Regions from separate parts of the Homo sapiens genome. Here regions 2 and 3 are each linked to region 1. The links come from fine-mapping of genetic effects on gene expression. A gene starts in region 1. Each other region holds a variant in brackets. All regions are shown on one strand. Distances are from middle to middle. Region 1 holds the start of PHKA2 (phosphorylase kinase regulatory subunit alpha 2). Region 2 overlaps PPEF1 (protein phosphatase with EF-hand domain 1). Region 3 overlaps ADGRG2 (adhesion G protein-coupled receptor G2).

Region 1 (2,760 bases):
TCTTCACTAGGAATAAAAATAGTTCAGTGGTCTTACACTGATGGACCCACACATAATTTTAGCCCAGGAATACAAAGCATAGCAGGCAAATTCATACCTCGGACCACATGGGCAGTGTCATAGGACCCTGTGAGCTTGGGAGCCTTTGGGTCTGACCTGCTACATGCAGTGACCTTTCTAGCCTCACAATTTTCTTATCTGTAAAATAGCAACCAAAGTAGCCCCTAAGGGCTTCCCAGGTGGGTCTCTACCAAGACAGCTCATGGGAGGGACGGTAGCTGTCGCCCCACACTGCAGAGTCCTGCGTAAACTTCAGGAGCTTCTTCACTCCTGTCTACTGTTCTCATTCAGTGTAGTCTGTCCAAACCCCCCACACCTCTTCTCGTCCAAAAAAAGCAGAGTCAATGCAAAAAGAGGCAGTTTGGACCCGGGCACGGAGGCGGCTCATTCTCATCCTGAACAATGGCCAAAGAATTCTGTGAAAAGTAGCCGTAGCAACAGTTAGGTCCCCTGAATCTTAAGGAGCACGGGGTGGCAATGGGGTGGTAATCACTGGCTAGCAAGGACTAGATTCAAATAGCAAACTCTTAATTGCAAGGTCTCAGGTCACAAGAGGGCCAGACCTGGGAAGGAGAATGAGTTACATGAGAGGGTAGTTCCACGCGTTCCCTGGGGGCGGTCCCTCCTTACCTGGTAACACAGGATGGTTTGCTGCACCAGCCGCGCGTACCCGTCCAAGCGGACCCCGGAATTGCTCCTGCTCCGCATCTCCCCGAGGCTCCCAGGCCGCAGCGCCCGATCTGCCGCGTGGGCGCGGGACGTCGGGGCTGTGGCCTCCAAGCGGGTCTGGTTCCCGGACACTCACAGCCTTAGTCGGTTCTTGGGATGGGACCGGGCCGGAGGAGGTCGAGACTTTTCTAAACGCTAGCCCCAAAGTCCGGTTGGAAAGCAAGCCAACCAGAGCTCCGCGCGGCGGGGAGGCGCGGGGGCGGGGACGGGGGCTGGAGCGACGAAGGTCCCGCCTCGGCCAGGCCTGCTGGGCTCCCGACGCTCGCGGGAGCAGCGGGAAACCAGGTTCCGGGAGTGGGGCGAGGACGCCCCTGCCAAGCCCCTTTTACGTCCCGGCGGTCGCGAGGAGGTCCCCCGGGCGCGAAGAAGACGCCAGCCCACCCCAGCCGCCGGGGAGATCGCCCAGGCCGCGCTCAGCCCCGCCCCTGGCTCTGCCCCCGCCGCGGAGCGGAACCCTCCAAGTCGCGGCCTGAGGAGGAAGGAAAAGGGGGCGGCCCGGGAGAGCCGCTGCGAAATCAGCAACGGGCGGGAACCAGGTTGCCTCCCTGAGTCCCTTCTCTCCCCGGCCGGCTGCCAACCACAGCCAAGGCCAGAGAAACAGGCCCTTCTGCCGCGGCCACCTGGGCGCCTTGGACCCGCCCTCCGGACTCGCCCCCGCCCCTGCCGCGGAGTGGAACGTTTGGAACCCTGAGGGGCACAGGTAAGGGGGCGGCCCCGCCCCGCGCCCTGGAACGACCTCACGGCCCCGCCCACATCCCCGCCCCTGGCCCCACCTCCGCCGCAGAGCGGAACCCTCAGAGTCGCGGCCTCGGGGGGGACGAAAAAGGAGGCGGCCCGTGGGAGTCTAGGGGAACCCGGCTTCGGGCGGCGGACGAGTTGGCTTTCCTGCGTGGTAGTGTGGAGCCCCCCGAGACGGGTGCCAGTCCCACTCGAGGCCGGAGAAAGAGGGCCGCCTACCGCGGCCGCCTGGGCACCCCTCTGAGGGCCAAGATTGTAGTCCCACCTCTGGCCCCGTCTCCGCCGCCTAGCGGAACTGGAGTAGCGGGACCCAGCCCGGAAGAAAAAGGGGGAAGGCCCGGAGAGGTGCCCCAGCGACACCTCTGGCGCCTGTGACCCCGCCCCTAGCCACTTGGGCGCCGCTTCCTCGGGCAGGTTCGCAGTTCATCTCCCACGGGTCTACAGCTTGAAACTTGGCATTCATTATAATGTTTCGTGGCTGCTGATAACCTACAGTTCACAATCTTCGGCCTGGTATTCATTGTCCACCAAAATCTGGCCCACATAGGAATTTACTGGACAGCTAGACTAATGCAATCAATTTCCGCAAGCTCTTTTCCAGTCTCCATGCATTTACTCTATGCTTGACCCCTTCGGCCCTTCTTCCTCCTCCTTGACTAACTGAAGCCTATCTTTCCCTTAACGGCCAGCTCAGCTCCTCTATTAGCCTTCCCCATTTTCTGAATTTCTGTAGCCATTGGTTTAGTAAGAGCTTAGGACTTAGAGTCAGTTCATTTTGAGTTCAAATGTCAGTTCTGTCATTTACAAGTCGTATGACCTTTGGCATCCCGTTTTACATGTTTGAACTTAAGTGTTCTCATCTGTAAAATGGAGATAATCATAGCACCTACCTCACAGGATGACTTAAGATCAAGAGGATGAATATAAAGCATTTAGCACAAGCCTGGCTAGTAGAAAAATACTTAATAAATCATAGCTAATTTCGTTGTCACTTGGCCACAATGTATTGCCTCCTGTTGTTATTTATGTTTTCATGTGTGGATGAGGCATATTTTCCTAATTGGAATGTACGTTATTCATTGAAACAGTCTTTTGGTATCTCCTACTATGCCTGGTACAGTGTTGAGCATATAGTTGGAGCTCAATTAATGTTGCTCGCATGAGTAAATGAAATCAGTCCTGCTTAGCTGCGTTCCCTTATGTTTGGTCCTTAACCAAGTTTATATTAGATAT
Region 2 (2,760 bases), 180 kb before region 1:
TTCAACAATTGTCAAACAATTGTGATGGAATTTTTAAAGCCAAAAAAACAAAAAAAAAATGGCAAGGCCTGATTCTTGGTTATTGTTATTGCTGTATTGGTTATTCATGGAGGAGATGAATATGAAACAATATTCTTTTTTCTTTTTCTTTTTTGCGGAGACCAGCTCAGTAGGGGAGACCCTAACCCAGCAGCGCTAGAGGAATTAAAGACACACACAGAAATATAGAGGTGTGAAGTGGGAAATCAGGGGTCTCACAACCTTCAGAGCTGAGAGCCCCAAACACAGATTTACCCACGTATTTATTAACAGCAAGCCAGTCATTAGCATTGTTTCTATAGATATTAAATTAACTAAAAGTATCCCTTATGGGAAACGAAGGGATGGGCCAAATTAAAGGAATAGGTTGGGCTTGTTAACTGCAGCAGGAGCATGTCCCTAAGGCACAGATCGCTCATGCTGTTGTTTGTGGCTTAAGAATGCCTTTCAGCGGTTTTCCGCCCTGGGCAGGCCAGGTGTTCCTTGCCTTCATTCCCGTAAACCCACAACCTTCCAGCGTGGGCGTTATGGCCATCATGAACATGTCACAGTGCTGCAGAGATTTTGTTTATGGCTAGTTTTGGGGCCAGTTTATGGCCAGATTTTAGGGGGGCCTGCTCCCAACAATTTTGAGACAGGGTCTCTGTCTGTCACCCAGGCTGGAGTGCAGTGGAGTGATCATGGCTCACTGCAGCCTCAACCTCTCAGGCTCAAGTGATCCTCCCATCTCAGCCTCCCTAGTAGCTGAGACTATAGGCATGCACCACCATGCCTGGCTAATTTTTGTATTTTTTGCAGAGTTGAGGTCTCACCATGTTGCCCAGGCTGGGCTTGAACTCCTGGCCTCAAGCACTCCTCCCACCTCAGCCACCCAAAGTGCTGGGATCACAGGCATGAGCCACCACGCCAGGCCTGAAACAATTTTCAAGGAAGAATGAGAAGTGGTCTTTGGGATACCTTGGGTTAATATTTCTGACAAATAAGTTGGAATCTAGAAAGATATACTCTCACTTGTAAGTTACAGCGAAATCTGGTTTGTTGTTCCAAGATTATTGATATTCTGTGGAGTGATCCCAGAGGCAAAAATGGCTGTTTTCCAAATACGTGCCGAGGAGGGGGCTGCTATTTTGGACCAGATGTTACTTCCAAGATTCTTAATAAATACCAGTTGAAGATGCTCATCAGGTCTCATGAATGTAAGCCCGAAGGGTATGAAATCTGTCATGATGGGAAGGTAAGCTAAAATTGTTGGTGACATTCCCATAAACATCCTTCCCCTAAGCACAGTCTTTTCTTCACAGAGCATGTCTGGCCTAGAAGCCCATGAGAAGATGTCTTCTCTAGTACCAAACAGAAACCAGAGAAGGCGAGCTTCATCTAGGTTGTTTGAAGGGGCCTCACTGTCCCTTATCCTAAAAGATATTTGGTTTATTTCCCTGATCTTCCCTAATCCCAGAAACAGAAATTCTTTTTTTTTTTTTGAGATGGAGTCTCACTCTGCCACCCAGGTTGGAGTGCAGTGGTGTGATCTCAGCTCACTGCAACCTC[C/T]GCCTCCCGGGTTCAAGTGATTCTCGTGCCTCAGCCACCCAAGTAGCTGGGATTACAGGTGTGCGCCACCACACCCAGCTAATTTTTGTATTTTTAGTAGAGACAGGGTTTCACCATGTTAGCCAGACTGGTCTCAAACTCCTGACCTCAGGTGATCCGCCTGCCTCGGCTTCCCAAAGTGCTGGGATTACAGTCGTGAGCCACCGCGCCTGGCCCCAGAAACAGAAATTCTGATACATGGCACTAAGTAGACACACAGAAAGGCTTGGTTCTTATAAGGCAACTGTCCCATACAGTGGGGTTGAGAATGTCCTTTTCCTCACAGAGCGCATAAAAGGCAGCAGTGAATCCAGTTTGCTCTTGCACTTTTTACATGTTCCCTGTGCAGGGCCCAAAACACAAAACACACTTCCCTTCAGCTCCCTGAGTAGGTGACCTCCAGCAAGTTGCTCACTGTAGTCAGTTTAGCTGCAGCCACTAAAACGGAGTGTGTTGTGTTCCTTCAGTGGTGTCTGATCAAAGGCTAAAAGAGGTGAGGACCGAGGAGCTGGTTTCTTGTCCCAAGTTGTTCTGGGATGCACCGTTTCTTTTTTTTTTCTTTTTTCTTTTTTTTGAGACAGAGTCTCGCTGTGTTGTCCAGGCTGGAGTGCAGTGGTGCAATCTCGGCTTACTGCAACCTCCGCCTCCCGAGTTCAAGTGATTCTCTTGCCTCATGCTCCCGAGAAGCTGGGATTACAGGCGCCCGCCACTACGTCCAGCTAATTTTTGAACTTTTAGTAGAGACAAGGTTTCATGATGGCCAGGCTGGTCTCAAACTCCTGACCTCAGGTGATCCACCTGCCTCAGCCTCCCAAAGTGCTGGGATTATAGGCATTAGCCACCGCGCCTGGCCTGGAATGCACCTTTTTCTATAGTGAACAGCAATAAATAAAAATGGACACCAAGTTGTGTGGCATTTCCCTCTGTGTCAGCACTTTGTTTTTCTGACCTTTATTAATTCATTTTCAGCTCATACTAACATTCCAAGATGAGTAAGGCAAGTATTGTTTAGGGTTTCTTTGTAGTAAGAAAATAGATAGAAAACATCAGTGGCTTGTCTGAAGTGACATGCTCATCAGGACAGAACGGGGCCTAAACCAGGTTCCCTGTCACCCACAAATATTGTCCTCCTGG
Region 3 (2,760 bases), 37 kb after region 1:
AGTGCTCAAAAATATTTATTGATTTTTTGGGGGTTATATGCATGCAGCACTAATCACTCTTCAGCAACTCCTAAGAGGAATTCACAAGGAAACACATCTTGGAGGACATGATGTTAAGTGAAATAAGCCAGGCACAGAAAGACAAATACCGCATGATCTCACTCAGATGTGGAATCTAAAAAGTCAAACTCATAGAAACAGAGAGTGAAATGCTGTTTACTGGGGGTCAGAGGCAGAGGGATTGGGGAGATGTTGGACAAAGGACACAAAATTTCAGTTACGCAGGAGGAATAAAAGAGATCTATTGTACAACATGATGACTACAATTAATTAGAATGTATTGTATGCTTGAAAAGTGCTTAGAGAGTAGACCTTAAATGTTCTTACCACAAAAAATGATAGGTATGTGAGGTAATGCAAATGTTAAATAGTTGATATAGCCATTCTGTGATGTATATCAAAACATCACATTGTACACCACAAATATGCACACTTTTTGCTTGTCAATTTAAAAAGTGGACATATCCCAGTAGCAATCCATTGAACATTCCAAAAAGAATTCTCCTTCTCAACAGGGTTTATCATATTATCAAATAAGACATATTAAAACTTTATTAGCGGGGAGGGAGAGCATTAGGACAAACACCTAATGCATGTAGGGCTTAAAACCTAGATGATGGGTTGATAGGTGCAGCAAACCACCACGGCACATGTATACCTATGTAACAAACCTGCACGTTCTGCACATGTATCTCAGAACTTAAAGTAAAATAAAATAAAAAACTTTATTAGCAAGCAGGAAAAATAACCTTCTAGGGCTCTTTAAAAATTGCCCAATGGACAGGTGTGGTGGCTCATGATCCCCAGCACTTTGGGAGGCCGAGGCAGGAGGATCACTTGAGCCGAGGAGTTCAAGAACAACCTGGGAAACATAAGGAGACTTCATCTCTATTAAAAATGTTAAAATTAGCTGGGTGTGGTGGTGCATGCCTGTAGTCCCAGCTACTCGGGAGGCTAAGGTGGGAGAATCACCTGAATCCGGGAAGTGGAGGCTGCAGTGAGCCATGATTGTGTCACTGAACCTGGTGACAGACTGAGACTCTGCCTCAAAAAAAAAAGAGAGAGAAATTGCCCAAGGACAAAGGAGTCAAAACAGAAAGCTGTAACATATGTAAATTTATTAATTACATTTTCAATTAGAAAAATAACACATTAAAATCCACATGAAGATTAATGCAGCAATAATAGACAACTTACCCATTGGTCGAATCTTTACTCTTTCCAAAGCAGCTATTACAGCACATGCATTCATTGTATTATTCAGTTTTATTGTGAATGTACAATTTAATGTGCTGTAAGGAGAAATATACATAACCAGAATGTTACTAAATGGGAAACCTACTTACATATTTGTAATTGCTTTTGCAAACTTAGAGTGAGGAAAGGGGACA[C/G]TGATACTGTTAACTTGTGATGTCACCCCAATAAGCTTGTAAATACCCATTTACCACGGTCTGAATTTTACCCAAAAAGACTTTATATTAAGAGACATTTATGGAGGTTCACATTCACAGAGGTTGCAAACCAGAGACTCTCTGACCACACATAGGTGCTGGCTCATTTTGCCTGTCTACACGATGAACAGGCAGGGGTGAAACTTGGTTGCAGAGACAAGCAAGCACCTTGACACCTTTAATCTCACCCCCAAAACACTAGCTGGCCACTTGCCTGGTGTCCATAAACATTTGAGTTTCCATCATGGGTGCCCTTTCACATACCAGTCTAGATGAACATCAAGATCTTTTTTTCTTTTTTTGTTTTAGATGGAGTCTCGCTCTCTTGCCCAGGTTGGAGTGCAGTGGCATGATCTCAGCTCACTGCAACCTCCCCGCCTCCCAGGTTCAAGCGATTCTCCTCCCTCAGCCTCCTGAGTAGCTGGGATTACAGCCGTGTATCACCACACCCCACTAATTTTTGTATTTTCATTAGAGATGGGGTTTTGCCATGTTGGCCAGTCTAGTCTCAAACACCTGACCTCAGGTGATCTGCCCACCTCGGCCTCCCAAAGTGCTGGGATTACAAGTGTGAGCCACTGCACCCAGCCACATCAAGACCTTTCAAATCCAAAATCTTTCTGGGGCCGGGTGCGGTGGCTCACACCTGTAATCCCAGCACTTTGGAAGGCCGAGGCAGGTGGATCACTTGAGTCCAGGATTTTGAGACCAGCCTGGCCAACATGCTGAAAACCTGTCTCTACTAAAAATACAAAAAGTAGCTGGGTGTGGTGGTGGGTGCCTGTAATCCCAGCTACTCAGGAGGCTGGGGCAGGGAGAATCACTTGAACCTGGGAGGTGGAAGTTGCAGTGAGCCGAGATCGTGCCATTGCACTCCAGCCAGGGCAACAGAGTGAGACTCCATCTCAAAAAAAAAAAAAAATCTTTCTGGGAATTCTATCTAGATTATTAGATAGCTAAGAATTGAAGACATTCTCTCTGTCCTTTCTACTTTAGCCTTGGTTTAGGTGAAAGAAAATTAGTGTTGCAATAACGAAAAGAGGTCAGTGAAATGAACTAAATACGTACAGTGGACAGGGAATACAATTTCATTGCCCTTATTTGTACCAATGAATAGTTTAATGAGTAGAAACTCTCATTTTCTAGGACTTTGACTGTCACAGAAGGCTCGGGGTTCAGATACTGAGTGTATTGCCCTGTAAGCCATCGGTTTACACAGCCAGGATAGCCAATGGACACAATTCAAAAT

Evidence for each region. PIP is the estimated chance that this variant, and not a neighbour inherited with it, causes the effect.
Region 2: its variant is fine-mapped to the expression of PHKA2 in whole blood (TOPMed, PIP above 0.99).
Region 3: its variant is fine-mapped to the expression of PHKA2 in whole blood (TOPMed, PIP above 0.99).

What each region holds. Positions count from the first base shown.
Region 1 is chrX:18,983,165-18,985,924 of GRCh38, forward strand. PHKA2 (phosphorylase kinase regulatory subunit alpha 2) reads right to left here and starts at 950. Exons shown (of 33, transcript NM_000292.3): 1 at 691-950. The coding sequence starts at 768. RefSeq lists enhancers at 752-1,252, 1,253-1,753, 1,735-1,784 and a silencer at 945-1,634.
Region 2 is chrX:18,802,805-18,805,564 of GRCh38, forward strand. PPEF1 (protein phosphatase with EF-hand domain 1) reads left to right here. Exons shown (of 16, transcript NM_001377996.1): 11 at 1,088-1,273. Among named protein-coding and RNA genes, the nearest start is that of PHKA2-AS1, 86 kb to the right of the region's middle. The variant C/T (reference allele first, on the strand shown) is at 1,588.
Region 3 is chrX:19,019,847-19,022,606 of GRCh38, forward strand. It overlaps ADGRG2 (adhesion G protein-coupled receptor G2), which reads right to left. Exons shown (of 29, transcript NM_001079858.3): 14 at 1,258-1,352. The region is part of intron 2 of LOC101928415 (a long non-coding RNA gene); the gene reads left to right. Among named protein-coding and RNA genes, the nearest start is that of PHKA2, 37 kb to the left of the region's middle. The variant C/G (reference allele first, on the strand shown) is at 1,452.